4 linked regions of the Homo sapiens genome follow. The protein of the gene in region 1 purifies or fractionates together with the protein of each later gene. This does not show direct contact. Each region holds a gene or a part of one and is shown on either strand. Other genes may lie near its edges.

The links.
Region 2: the proteins of DIP2A (region 1) and RBM12B purify together in Homo sapiens (affinity purification with mass spectrometry, with the first as the bait; one large-scale study listed by BioGRID). This does not show direct contact.
Region 3: the proteins of DIP2A (region 1) and NKTR purify together in Homo sapiens (affinity purification with mass spectrometry, with the first as the bait; one large-scale study listed by BioGRID). This does not show direct contact.
Region 4: the proteins of DIP2A (region 1) and HSD17B4 purify together in Homo sapiens (affinity purification with mass spectrometry, with the first as the bait; one large-scale study listed by BioGRID). This does not show direct contact.

Annotation. Positions count from the first base shown.
Region 1 is NC_000021.9:46,535,360-46,538,926, reverse strand, and holds part of DIP2A (disco-interacting protein 2 homolog A), read right to left. Parts: intron 1,704-3,567; coding exon 1,639-1,703; intron 1,482-1,638; coding exon 1,388-1,481; intron 445-1,387; coding exon 325-444; intron 1-324. UniProt on the Homo sapiens protein: Catalyzes the de novo synthesis of acetyl-CoA in vitro. Promotes acetylation of CTTN, possibly by providing the acetyl donor, ensuring correct dendritic spine morphology and synaptic transmission.
Region 2 is NC_000008.11:93,738,180-93,742,255, reverse strand, and holds the start of RBM12B (RNA-binding protein 12B), read left to right. Parts: upstream 1-1,246; 5' UTR 1,247-1,375; exon of another isoform or gene 1,376-1,559; 5' UTR 1,560-1,627; exon of another isoform or gene 1,628-4,076.
Region 3 is NC_000003.12:42,607,161-42,610,727, reverse strand, and holds part of NKTR (NK-tumor recognition protein), read right to left. Parts: intron 1-3,567. UniProt on the Homo sapiens protein: PPIase that catalyzes the cis-trans isomerization of proline imidic peptide bonds in oligopeptides and may therefore assist protein folding. Component of a putative tumor-recognition complex involved in the function of NK cells.
Region 4 is NC_000005.10:119,455,459-119,459,025, reverse strand, and holds part of HSD17B4 (peroxisomal multifunctional enzyme type 2), read right to left. Parts: intron 2,712-3,567; coding exon 2,658-2,711; intron 1-2,657. UniProt on the Homo sapiens protein: Bifunctional enzyme acting on the peroxisomal fatty acid beta-oxidation pathway.

The sequences.
Region 1 (3,567 bases):
AGGGTGGGGATGAGGCCTAAAGAGAAACAGGAACCCCAGGCCACAGCACAATCTGGTAATTTCTTAAGAAAGATGACTCTCATTAAGGCATGTACCTTTCATCAAGCATATTAAAATTGCTTTTAAATTTAGTGGCCTAATAAACATGCATGGGATAAACCAGTGAATCACCAAGATGTTCCGTGTCATAGAAACGATGGGACATGTGTATCTATATGACAATGGCAGTGAAAATGCCTCCATTTTGCTTCTCAGTGTATTCTACTTTGGTTTGCAGGAGGGGACACTGTGTGGGGTATGCGCCGGGCACACAGGCTCACTCACACGGGTTGGCACCATCGGCCACAATCAGCATGCGCAGTGAGCTGAGGCTGACGTCCCTCTGGCCCCGCTGAGCTAGGAGAGACCAGTGCATGTCTCGCGACTTCACCAGCGCGGCCCGAGCTGCAGAGAGAGGATGGCACAGACATCCCTGCGTCACAAGGACTGGCACCCTCACACGCCTACAGACACGTGTACCTCATCCCACAGAGAGGTGTACATGCACAGACAGACACAACACTTAGCTCCCAGGTCACAAGCTCTCTGCAGCCGTCTCTCACATGCAGTCTAACAAACCCTCAAAGCTTTTTCCACAAAAATCAACTCTGAGGTACAATTTAGACATCAAAACCTCAGATCCATTTCCAACATTAATTTTTTCTTAGAAGCTCCATATTGCTCTTTTCCTATCTGCCCGCTTCATCTCATGTTGTCCTTCCCCAAACCCCTGGTGCTGGCTGAGAAGTGTGAGGACCCCAGAAGCTAAACAGATGGTCTCAGGCCTCAGTCTGGCCCCTGCACTGGCTAGCATGTGGAATCCAGCAATCCCCCCACCCCTACCCAAGCTTCAGTTTCCCTCCATAAAGTAGGACAGACAGAGAGAGCTGCCCCTCCACACTGCTCTGAGACATGTCTAGAGGGGCACAGCCCAGTAGGTAGAACAAGGCAACATGGGTGACCCAGGTGATCCAGTGCCTCAGTGGCTGGTAGAAGTGCCACTGAGCTCCACAGGGCAGAGACACAGACTGCCAACTGTGCAGGTGTGGCCATGCTGGGGCCTCCTGCTTGGTCCCAGGAGGCACCTCAACCGTTGAGAGAAGTAAGGCCCAGACCCCACCAAGTGGCCCTACTTACCACATCACCCACGAAACCCTGAGGGCCATGCCAGAGGCAGAGAAAGCCCCCATATTCCTGGGCAGGGGTGTGACCAAGAAAGACGTCCCACAGCTCTTCAGCCTACATCTGCAGTTCCACATGTCAGCTTTATTTTTTCTTAAGCACCAAAGGTCAGTTCAAAGAGATTTCCCTAAAGAAGGGTGAAGGCCCTGACCATGGTATCCGTTACCTTTATAGAAGCACACTTTCTGGATCCAGGAGAGTGGGTTCGCCTTCATCAGCGCGTAGGGGACGCTGACCACGTGCATCCTGTTCATGACGCTCTGTGGGGGAGCACACATGCTTAGGGCGAGTGGGCCCGAGCCACACCAGAAAAAGCAAAACAAAACCGATGTACTCTCCCAACAACATTTCAGGCAGAGGCTTGGGTTCATCTCAATCCCTTGTTCCAACAGTTAGTCATCAGCAAACAACACTCACTGTTAACACGCCATGCCACAGACCAGCATCCCTTTTGAAATCCAGCACGTTTGTTAATGTTTCAGCTGCAAGTGGACAAAGAAGGTGACACCACTGAGCAACCCTCTCAATAAGCCCTATGCATTTTCTAGAGAAATTCTGAGGTGAGTACGTCATCAACATGTAAGTTTCAGGAACAGATACAGCATTTCCAAATACCACATACCAATTAATAATAATCCTGGTTATCTATTCAAATTACTGGAAACACATAAAAGTAGAAGGTCATGGAACTAACACAGAGAACCACGCTGAGCACTAATCAGAAGGCACAGGAACATCACATACTGAAGAAGCTATACAAGGTGTCACCACAGCTTGTCTTTTCTTCTTTTTTTTTTTTTTTGAGACAGAGTCTTGCTCTGTTGCCCAGGCTAGAGTGCAATGGAGCAATCTCAGCTCACTGCAACCTCCGCCTCCCAGGTTCAAGCAATTCTCCTGTCTGAGCCTCCCGAGTAGCTGGGACTACAGGCATGCGCTGCCATGCCTGGCTAATTTTTGTATTTTTAGTAGAGAAGGGATTTCACCACGTTGGCCAGGCTGGTCTCAAACTCCTGACCTCAAGTGATCTGCCCGTCTCAGCCTCCCAAAGTGCTGGGATTACAGGTGTAAGTCACCGCACTCGGCCTCTCCACATCTTCTCATCAGATATTTTTGAGTGGGTATTCTTCTCAGAATCAAGAGGTGGGGATGAAAAACTGTCAGGGATATTCTTACTTCTCAACTCTACACCACATCTCCTCAATTCTCACACCCAGAGGCCGTGATCCGGCATCTCCCCTCTGTAAGAGCTGGTGGTTTGCATCACCCTTCGGAAAGTCACTCTTCCTCTGCCCGTTTTCTCACCCAGAGGTATGCAGCTAACACATCTTAGGAAGCTGGAGTGGATAGGGGTCCTGAGGGTTCCCAGCACAGCTCTCTGCTCAGAGCCCCTGGCCAAGTCTTCTCTAATATCCGGCTCCCACCTTGCACAGGCAGAAAGGACAGAGCCTGGGGCTGTGGGCAGACCTGGCTTCTCGCCAAAGGCCACAGCACTCCAAAGGCAAACAGGAGAGGTTTGATTTGTGTGCCAGGAAATGCTGTTGCACCATGAATAACAGTACTATAAACACCCTTTCTCTGTTGGTTAAGAACACAAATTATTATCATTATTATTTAGAGACGAGGTCTTATTACGTTGCCAGGCTGCAGTGCAGTGAATATTCATAGGCACAATCCCATTACTCATTGGCATGGGAGTTTTGACCTGCTCCCTTTCCTACTTGGGTCGGTTCACCCCTCCTTAGCAAGCTGGTGGTTCCCCACTCCTAGAAGGTCACCATGTTGCTGCCAAACTTCGTGCAGATACCTGGTTAGCACAGCCCACTACAGCCCAAAACTCCTGGGCTCAGGCGGTCCTCTTACCTCAGCTTCCCGAGTAGCTGGGACTATAGGCACACATCATCACGCCTGGCTAAAGAACCCAAATTGTAGGTGACATATGTAAGATCAGCTCTGAGCTGAAGACAAAGAAAGTCACGGGGCTTGATCTGAAAGATCTAACTTTTTTAATAAAGCCCTTAAAAAATACCTAAAATCACTTTCCAAATCTCAAGTAAAAGCTTTAGCTGTGCCCTCAACTTATACCCTTGCTTTTAAACACCTATATTTTTTTCTTTTTTAAAAATTCTATTTAAAATTTCTCCCTTTTTTTGTAGAGACAGGGTCTCACTATGTTGTCCAGGCTGCTCTCAAACTCTTGACCTCAAGTGTTCCTCCTGCTTTAGCCTACCAAAGTGGTGGGATTACTGGTATGAACCACTGCACCTGGCCTGAACACCTATATTTTAGATATTTAGACATACCATTCAATTTCACTCAGTAGTTTTGTTCAATTCTAGTATTACAATG
Region 2 (4,076 bases), on another chromosome or scaffold:
CAGAGGGGCTAAATAATTTGTCCAGTGAGTAAAAGATGGCTCTGATTTTGTGTTAACTATCTTTTTATTTACTTATTAAACTACCTCTTCTTTCTTATAATCATATCATTAAAGAATGGGTATTTTGCAGTGAGAAAGGGATCCACAACTCACTTTTTCTGTCATCTGTAACAATGTTTTTAAAATGTACTTTCTGCTTAATGAGCTTTGAATCCATCCACAAATACATCAAGTAGCTATACAACGTGGTGGGAAACTTTGTTATTTGCAAATGATAAAACCAAACACAAGGTTGTTCACCAGCTATTACGTAGCAGGCATCACAGAGTACACCTGTAATAGTGCTTTTCCATTACTGAAATTTCAGTACTGGCTCATCTGTTCTCTTGTTTCAAAAATCCAGAAGATGGGAACAAATTTATAAAGACACTTCACAAGGTTATTTATATCTATAAAACCGACTAAGCATGCATTTATTAAGCCCCCAGGTGTTGGGATTGTACTTGGCGAACATCTAAGGCAGTAAAATTACCTTTTCTGTGGTATTCTAGGGTCTACAGGAGCTTTTTTATTTTTGTTTTGAGATGGAGTTTCACTCTTTTGACCTGGCTGGAGTGCAGCGGTGCGATCTCGGCTCACTACAGCCTCCATCTCTCGGGTTCAAGCGATTCTCCTGCCTCAGCCTCCCGAGTAGCTGGGATTACAGGCGCCCGCCACCATGCCAGGCTGACTTTTTTGTATTTTTAGTAGAGACGGGGGTTTCGCTTTTTGGGCGGGCTGGTCTCGAACTACTGACCTCAAGTGATTCGCCCGCTTCGGCCTCCCAAAGTGCTGGGATTACAGACGTGAGCCACCGTGCCCGGCCACAGGAGCTTTTTAGAAGATGTTTTACGCCACACAGTAATGCAACACTGAAAAGACAAGTCGCCTTTTCTCTGCTTTTGCATCTCTTTCCTTAACTTCTGGAAATCTTTAAAGTTTGTCCGCCGTACTTCGACAGTTGTCTACCGAAGATTCTCAGCACATCTACCGGCTGAGCCCTGAATGTGTCTCTGAATTTCTCCCGTTGAAAGTCGAGGTCCCTGGGCTGGGCAGAATCTGGGCATGCGCAGAAGCTCAGCCAACCCCGGGGCTCCGCCTCCCCTCCTCTAGCGAGGGGAAACGGGTGAGCGGCAGCGCGCGTGCGCAAGCTTGGTGGTGGGTTGCGCCTGCAGAGCGCATGGGCAGATAAACCGTACGTCCGTTTGTCCGGACCGGAGGGGCAGTGGGCGCCATCTTCTTCTGGGCTCACTGAGGGTCTACCTGTTTTGGGGAGGCTGCTGCGACGAAGAGTTCCCTCAGCCTCCGGCCTTGTGTGTCCGACTCGGCAGCAGTGGTGTGTGTTTATTGCCAAGTGCGAAGCAGTTCCCCTCGGGGCGCCGGGGGTGGGGAGGGCTGGGCGACCAAGCCGGAAGAACGGGGAAAGGCGGGACCGGCGGCCGCGCCAGTATCTAGCGTAGCTCCTGCCGTTAGGGCACCCTCTTTTCTTGCTAAAACACCGACTCTTCCTTTCCCGTCAGCTTCCATGTGGTGGTGTATGTGCGCTTCCCAGGGATCTTGAGAGTGAAGATCTCGAAGGATTTCATAGGTATATTTTTTTCTTTGCTATGTCATCGTAGTCAGTGGTGGCAGAAAAGCGCTGCAGGCCCAGCTCGTTAGGCTTGAGAAGGGCAAGTGTTTTCAGTTAGATCTGGGGGCAGTTCACCCTCTGGCGAGTTAGGGTGGAATGTTTGCCCTTGAGACGGCGTAACGGAAAGGCACGGAGGTTGGGCGGTCCAGGTTAATTTGAAGGCTGATTTTGGCTGAAAGTCTGGCGACAACATCGGATCCCACGTAGCAACTTTGGCCTGGCGCGAAAGAAGGAAGCTCTGACCCCTGGGAGTTGTGGACAAAGGCTTTGGGCTGTAGAATCGATGCCTTCGGATGATTCCCGTTTGAGGATGTTGGGAGAAATCCTGTGCCATGTGGATTCGTCTTCATTTACAGTTCTTCCTAGGGACTGTGGCTCTCATTGGTCATTCCTTTGGTTTTTATTTTAAACATCTACATTATAAAAGGTGGATCATCGTAAAGAATAATTATGGGTTGGTGTAGATTATTTTCTGCAGGGGAAACTCACGTTTAGAGTGTGAATATGCTACATCATGACCTTGGGCTTTACGAAGTAGTCGCAGAGTTAAAAAAAATTCTCTCCCTCACCATATCTGGAAAATGACTTTTTCTTCGCTAGTTAAAAATCAAATGGATCTGATGAGATATTACTTATTTAAATTCTGTCTCCCTCCCGTTTCCCTCTCTGTATCCCCTTAAGTCTTGATTAGAAGAGGCACGTTACGTATTGTTTAGTTATAATGGTGATTAAGTGGGATGAATCGTTGGATAAAAATAGCAGTTATTTAAAATGCGCTTTAAATTTCACTGACTTAAGTGATCTTTTAGGGACCCACTCTTCTTTTCATAGAAATTTTAACAGATTATTGTCTTCAAATGAACACAAAGGCACAAAAATACTTTTTGCATTCATAACTAGAAAAACGCAAAATTTTAATTGCAGACTACTTGAGGGTAATTTTCGTGTTTTGCTTTTGTGTAATTTAGTGTGTTAAGAGTTGAATTTCTGGAGAATTTGCTTAAGGAAATATAGCATGTTGGAACCACAGAAGTGCCCATTTTGAGAGCTGGTCTCTTACAGTTGGTCTCCAAGGTGTGTTATTGTAGAGGCATAAATGGTACATTACCCTACTGTCTCAAGGGTAGAGAAGTTTAAGCATTAGTTTTGTTTAACTGTGGCAAATGAGAATAAACTTTCTAAATAGTCTGCTTGAATTGGAATTCATGAGATTTGTGCTCATGAAACTACTTGGTTAAAAGATAGTTTTTAAGTGAGGTAGGATAAATTACTAGAGTTTTTTTGAATTTGAGATATAATTATTCCTTGAAACGTCTCTAATTTCTCTTGTAGATGAATTTATGTTCCCAGGGTAAATCCCGTTAAAATTTTTTTAAAAGCTTAGGAGAGACAAGAATATGTATAGCTTATGGTGCTTTCTAAAATATCTTAAAAAGAGTAGCTAAGCCAATTTGCATAGGAGGGAGTCTTGGGACTTTAATATGGATAAAGTAAGTATTCCAGAAGCCATTTGTAGTTTTTGTTGAAGTGTTAGTATGGATATTGGTTTGTTGAAGAAAATAGGCTTTTTTTCTTTTTTTGTTACTGTGCAAATACTTTAATAGCAAACCTGATTAATATTTTTCAGATGTAGAATGTGTGAAGTAATTTGATGTCTTTGCTAGTTTAGCTTCTGGTTAATCTACGTACCCTTTTTTAAAGGAAAACAGACCTCAGTGAATGTATCTTCAGACCCCCACTTTGGGGAACAGTGGTACTTAAGTGTAAGTACTGGATTCTGGATTAACGCAACATTTATTTGTACATTAAAGACATGTAAATTACTCCAGGCGCAGTGGCTCATACCTGTAAATCCTAGCACTGTGGGAGGCTGAGGTGAGCTGATTGCTTGAGCCCATGAGTTCCCTACCAGCCTGGGCAACATGGTGAAACCCTGGCTCTACAAAAAATACAAAAATTAGCCGGGTGTGGTGGTGCACACCTGTAGTCCCAGCTACTGGGGAGGCTGAGGTGGGAGCATTGCCTGAGCCTGGGTAAGTCGAGGCTGTAGTGAGCCAAGATCGCACCAGTGCACTCCAGCCTGGGTAGCAGAGCAAGAGAGACCCTGTCTCCCCCACCAAAGAAAGTGAGTGTAAATTATAATTATTTATTTGGCAAGTCTTCATGAAATAGTTTGGGTATCCCTGAAAGTATTAAACGCAAACTTCTTTAAAAAATTACATTGAGATTTTTCAGTAAACGGGTAATCCCAGTATTCCAAGTTAATTTTTAATTTTACTTTTCTACATCATCATTTGGGTTTCCTTAGTAGAGTGCAGAATAGTTGTTTGAAATGGAAATCTGCTATTGGCATTATTAATAAGATAAATAGCATTTTCTGTTTGGCTTGAGATGAATTGTAACAGTT
Region 3 (3,567 bases), on another chromosome or scaffold:
ATAAAACAAATTTAAAACCCCATATGCCAATCTCATTTTAAAAGAGACACTATTCAACATTAGGAAATCTACTAATATAGTTTATTGAAGTGAAGGAAAAATCCTATAAAAATCCCATGATAGAAAAAAAAAATCCCACGATAGAAACCAAAAGTGCACGGTGAAATTCAACATTCATATCTACTACAGAAACAACAAAATAAATTTTAAAAAAGAAAAATATAAATTAAAAAAAAGAAATTCAACATTCATTCCTTTATATGACACACATATTCTCAGATATTTTTCAAATCAACAATCAGCATTATCGTTAATGGTGAAACACTCCTGTAGCATTAATTCCAGTGAAGCAGGAAACAAGTCAAAAGTAGTTGTTAGCATCACTACTGTTTAATGCTCTTTCAGAAATTCTAGTCAATGTAGGCTAGGCGTGGTAGCTCACGCCTATAATCCCAGCACTTTGGGAGGCGGTGGGGGGCGCGGATCACCTGAGGTCGGGAGTTCGAGACCAGCCTGACCAACATGGAGAAACCCCGTCTCTACTAAAAATACAAAATTAGCGGGTGTGGTGGCTCACTCCTGTAATCCCAGCTACTCGGGAGGCTGAGGCAGGAGAATCGCTTGAACGCAGGAGGCAGAGGTTGCAGTGAGCCGAGATTGCACCATTTTGCACTCCAGCCTGGGCAACAAGAGCGAAACTCTGTCTCAAAAAAAAAGGAAATTCTAGTCAATGTAAGTAGATAAGAGGACAATAGGAGAGATTTACAAGTAAAAAAGAGCATATTTATCACCATTTGAAACATTAGCTATACACCTAGAAAGCCCAAAAGAACCAACTGAAATACCAACAGATACTGAAGTTGTTGATATTTATATTATGACAAACAAGAACTAGTAGAACAAAATACAGTAAAAATCACATTCTCAAAAACAACAAGAAACATTCTACCTACATAACCATAAGAGTATAGGATCTATAAAAACAAAACTCCAACTTTGAGAGGCATAATGCCAACATGAATAAAGGGAGAGATACCTTGTTCTTAGACAAGACTCAAAATTGCAAATGTGCCCAATATTCCCTAGAGTAACCTATAATAACTTAATTGCAACCTTCAAAAATACCAGTGAGATTTCTGAGGGAACTTGACAAAATGATCCTGAAGGTTGTCTGAAAGAATAAATGTGCAATTCCCCTTCTTGAACTTTTGTTTTGAAATTTTCAAATCTACAAAGATGTTTTGCCATATTTATCCCTCTCTAAACACACAATCTTCTGGAACAAACTGAAAGTTAAAGACACTGTGACACTTCACCCCTAATTATTAATACTTCAGCTTATATTCCTAAAGAATAAAGATATTCTGCTACTTAAATCCAAAACCATTACTACACCAAAGAAATTTAATAGTGATTATCATCTACTCCATAGCTGTGGCATAACATGAAACATTACATTTGACCTCTGTCCCCAGTTCCTACATTTGACCTCTGTCCCCAGTTTCTAGCACAGTGCTCCTAAAACTTGTAATTTTCTAAGTGATAGGACTGATAGGAGCATCTTTTGTTCTATTTGATCTTTCTTCTTTTTTTTTTTTTGATATATGAGTCTTGCTCTATTGCCCAGGCAGGAGTGCAGTGGTATGATCTCTGCTCACTGCACCCTCCACCTCCCAGGTTCAAGCAATTCTCCTGCCTTAGCCTCCTGAGTAGCTGTGATTACAGGTGCTCGCCACCATGCCCGGCTAATTTTTGTACTTCTTTTTAGTGGTCAGGGTTTCACCACGTTGGCCAGGCTTGTCTGGAACTCCTGACCTCAAGTGATCTGCCTGCCTCGGCCTCCCAAAGTGCTGGGATTACCGCCATGAGCCACCACACCCAGCCTACTATTTGATATTTCTCTCAGATTCTTGACAGAGAACACTTAAATCCCTTAGCATTCGCATCCAAAGAAGAGACTCTTGGCAGACCCCCAGATAGCTTCAGGATAGGGCTGGTTGCCAGAAAAACCATGCCTTGGTTAGAGGTCTGTAACTTTCAGCCTCACTTTCCAACCTTCAGAGAGAGAAGAGGGGCTGGAGATTCAGTTAATAATTGATCACACATATGCAATCATACGTGATGAAATAATTGATCATACATACATATATTTTTAGCCACAAAACCCCCTAAATGGCAGGGTTTAGAGAGAGCTTCCAGACTGGTGAACACAATGAGGGAGGGCGACATGTCCAGAAGGCCCATGCATCTCCCCACCCTCTGCACCTACAATACCTTGCCCTAGGCATCTCTTCTGTTTGGTTGTTCCTGAGATATATCCTTTATAATAAACCAGTAATAGTAAGCAAACTGGCTTCCTAAGTTCTGTGAGCTGCTCTAGCAAATTACTGAAGCTGAGCAGGGGGTTGTAGGAATCCCTAATTTACAGCTGGTTGGTCAGAAGTAAGAGTGACTCAGAAGCCAGGCGCAGTGGCTCACGGAGGCCGAGGTGGGTGGATTACCTGAGGTCAGGAGTTTAGGACCAGCCTGACCAACATAGTGAAACCCTGTATCTAATAAAAAATACAAGAAGTAGCCAGGTGTGGCGGTGGGCACCTGTAATCGCAGCTACTTGGGAGGCTGAGGCACGAGAATCTCTTGAACCCGGGAGGCGGAGGTTGCAGTGAGCTGAGATCGCGCCATTGCACTCCAGCCTGGGTGACAAGAAGGAAACTCAAAAAAAAAAAAAAAAAAAAAAAAAAAAAAAAAAAAAAAAAAAGAGCGACTCAGGACTTGCGATTGGCATGCCCGCAGTGGGAGCAGTCTTGTGGAACTGATTTCTCTTAACTTGTGGAATATGACACTAACTCCAGGTAGATAGTGTCCAGAATCAAATTGAATTGTTGGACACTTAGTTGGCTTTGAAGAATCTGTTACTGTGGGAAAAAACTCCTCATAATAATCCATATTCAAATTTACCCAACTACCCCTACAATGCCCTTTACATGTTTTTTCCCCCTTTTCATTCTTTTTAATGGCTGAATGGAATTCTGTTGTTTGGCTATATCAAATTTTACTCAACCAATCCTCAACTGATTAGCATTTGAGTTCCTTCTAGTTTACTGACAAATATACATCTATTTTTTAAAATCCAGGAATCTCATTCAAGCATTATATACCCATTTGGTTTTCATTTGTTGGCCTCTTTTAATCTAAAACAGTCTCCATCTTTTTTTTTTTGCACCCCATTAGAAAGCATGTCAGTCGGACCCATTAAAGTACCTTTATAACTGAGATATTAGCCACATCTTAGTTGTAAAGGAATTTTCCTCCATTTTAAATAAATAATCTGTTGGATACTTTGCACACAGCACAACTTTTCACCTATGGTTTGGCCACTGATGACTACTTTCTGAACCAGTTATTACCATGGGGGTTGCAAAATGATGATTCTTCTGATTCCATCAATTCTTCTGTATCTATTAAACTTGAATCTTTCTGTTAAGAGCCGCACGCACCCACCCCATGTCAAAAGTAACACAGTATCGACACAAAAAGAGCCTGGATCCCTCACATGGACAGCCCTGA
Region 4 (3,567 bases), on another chromosome or scaffold:
CAAAGGTGTTACTTCAGTTCAAGAGTAGAACTCCCTTTCTTTTACTAAGGAGTTCTTTTTGCTCCTTTTTGTCAGTCCTTCTTGTGTTTATGTCCTCAAAATAAAACTTACTATTCAGAGAACTAGATATAGCTCACCTACTGAGGAAACCTCAAAACTACTGAATTCCCAATAACCTACTTAAGAAATGCACAAGCATTTCCTGAAAGATGTAATTTACACAAAAGCAAATGTCCCTTTTTACAGTATCAGCCTAAGGCTTAGCAGTTCTTATACCAAATTTAAATATCCCATAAGCTTTATATTATGGAATATAAAACATAGCAATCATATTAACACAAAATTGGAGACTATCTTAAATGATGCCCCTAACTTTTGGCTTAGCCAAATGATTTCCTTTGGCCAATGAAATGTCGGTAGAAGTGACATGCCACTTCTAAAAAGAGGTCAGGAGTTCAAGACCAGCCTGGCCAAGATGGTGAAACCGCATCTTTACTTAAAAAAAAAAAAAAAAAAATTAGCCAGGCTTGGTGGCAGGCGCCTGTAATCCCAGCTACTTGGGAGGCTAAGGCAGAGAACTGCTTGAACCCGGAGGCAGACGTTGCAGTGAGCCAAGATCACGCCACTGCACTCCAGCCTGGGCAACAGAGCAAGACTCCATCTCAAAAAAAAAAAAAAAATTAGTGTGTGTGATGCAACTTGGAAACACGGTGTCTATGGTGTACATGTAAAAAGGCTAACAGGTAAGACACAGACTTTAAAAAGGAATAGAAAACATCAGTCAAAATTTCTGCACTTCCACATGGATTGAATTCTCCTCCTTAATACTAAACTAAATCTGGCTCTTCATTCAAGTTTATGAAATATTTTTCTTCTATATTCTTGGACTTTTATCAGGACTTGACACAATTATCATCTCTACTATAATAATGCAATGACAAAATAGATAGACACAGCATCTCTGTTTAATTTTTTCTTAGAATTCAAATACTCCTAATCTGAATTTAAGAAATTGAGAGGGAACAGGGAAATAAAGGAAAATTGATGCACAGGAACACACTGTTATAAAATTTTTTACAAAACAGGTTTATAAACTAAGTTTATATCTTAGTCAAGAACAAAAAAAAGAAATGTATTCAACCAATCTCAAACACACCCTTCCCCCAGAAAAGTATATCAACAATAAAAGAACCAATGAACAAAGTACCTTCTTTGCACAAAGAAATATTCTAGGTCCTTTAGTAGATACAAAAGATAAAACAAGATCCTTGCCGTTATGGAATTGAGCAGAAAAGATGTAAATAAATAAAAACATATAAGGTAAAAATATTAAGAACTAAATAGCAACATAAAAAGGAAGGAAAATTAAAAATAGTAACAGCATGTGTCTTTAGGCCTCAACATGAGCTATTCTTGGGAAAATCTGACAAAGTGGGCCTGAAATATATACTCGCTGTCCAAATAATACAATGTCAAAATTCATCCCTGCCAGAAGAAGCAGATTGGATTAGCAGACAGTGCCTATGATCTTAAACAAGGAACATCCAAAGCGTCAGTGTTCCTTCCATAAAGATAAGCTACACATCCACAATGAAGGAGAAAAGTGTATCAAGTGCTCTGCTTAGGGCTTGTTTAGAAAACCTGGTTGCTTGCTTACTCTTTTGTTATATGTGTCTCCCTGAACAAACTGATGAAAATTCGTCTCTCTGTATTGCCTCGTTAAGATGTCAGAAAGCTGAAATTAGAAGATCATTGTGGGCCCACAGTTTTATCCCAGGAAATATGCTAATAAGTACTGGGTCCTACATATCCCCCTGCACTTAGCACCCATTTAGTTATTCCCCAGAAAGGCTCAGTTGTGGACAAATTCGTTTCTGTGTCCACACCAACTGTCAAGCACATTAGATCAGTCCAAACCATGCAGATTACTAAAACCTCCCACCTTTAGGATTCTTCAATACAGTATCTTCCATCTGACCCCTCCACAAACAAAAACTCATGTAACTGCCCCCTCAATTAAATTTTTTTAAAACACTTCCAGCTGAAAAGTTTTGATGAAAGAGTCAAGAAACCCATACTTTAGATTCCTTGACTCCAAACTTCCAGTTCTCAAAATTCAGTTATTTCTTACTTTTATCAATACACTTACAGGGGCTCTCTTTTGATCTCGCACCAGTAGACAAACCTCCTGTCTCAAAAAATTACAGCCTACAATTTACTGAAGTCAAGAATTTCCTTTTATACAATAAATGCTTGTCCCCACCCTTTTCTGTGAGAAACAGGGTTTTTTTTGCGCCATCACCCAGATTGGAGTGCAGTGGTATAATCATAGTTCTCTGCAGGCTCGAACTCCTGGTCTCAAGCGATCCTCCCACCTCAGCCTCCTGAGTCACTGGAGTTATAGCCACAAGCCAGCATGCCTACCCCCTAGCCCTTCGTTATCAATTCTGTTAAGCTGGGAATTCTGTGAAACTGGTTCCCTTTTAAAAGTAATTTAGACAGACAGCCTTAGTCGGGGTAAAAACCTTCTGGCAAAAGTAAAAATTAATAATAAAATTCAACCTTGACAAATTATTTGATAGAAAGACAAAGATAGCTTGTAAAGATTGTATTTCAGTTATCAGCTACAGATTAAAAAGAAAAACACACCAACTTACCAACAACTAACGCTCCTCTTTCTGCAAAAGCCAGGGCATAGGCTCGGCCCAATCCTAATCAAAAACAAAATAATCAGAAAGTTGAAGAAATGTCAGCATAATTTTTTTGGTCCGCTCAACTCAATCCCCATTTAAAGAAATTGGTGAACAATTAATTACATTTTAATGATACTCTCAACCTATCCTATCACTGACATTCTCAACCTATCCACTCTCTTCTGCTTGCAGAGGCTGGAAAGCTTAAAACTGTATTTTTCCACCTATTCTACTACCACTTCCTACCATTCTACTTAGCTGCTAGGATGCTGTGAATTGGGTTCCACCATCTGATGCATCTGCATAAAACTTAGAAGGTGTAAGTGAGACAGAGACCACCTTACTGGGAGTTCTGGCTGTTGTTGTTAAGAAGCTAGTTTTCTTGAAAGTTCCTAGGTATTCAGAAACTGACTATAGCAGCGACTTCTTCATTCAGCTCCCTAATCCCTGGATGGCAGCTTCCATACTTCAGGTCCCTAGTGCCAGTGCTACTTGGGCTGTGGCACAGCTCCAATGACAGCCTCAGAGGTATTGCCTCCTCTAATGGATCAATTTCCTATTGTTTCAGGAGTTATTCTAAGAAGACCTGCCTAAAACCTAATTGCCTGTATTGAATCCTTTGCTGCTTAAAATATCTAGTGGTTTCTGTATCCCACAGTGAACCCTGACTACACAGTCATCAAATACAGAAAATATTTAATTCTGACTCAAAGCTACAAGGTGTAAATTTATATATCCAAAAAGAAATTATATATATATATATAGAGAGAGAGAGAGAGAGAGAGAGAGAAAGTTTTGCTTTTTTTCTTTTTTTTTGAGATCCAGTCTCACTCTGTCGCCCAGGCTGGAGTGCAGTGGCATGATCTCGGCTCAC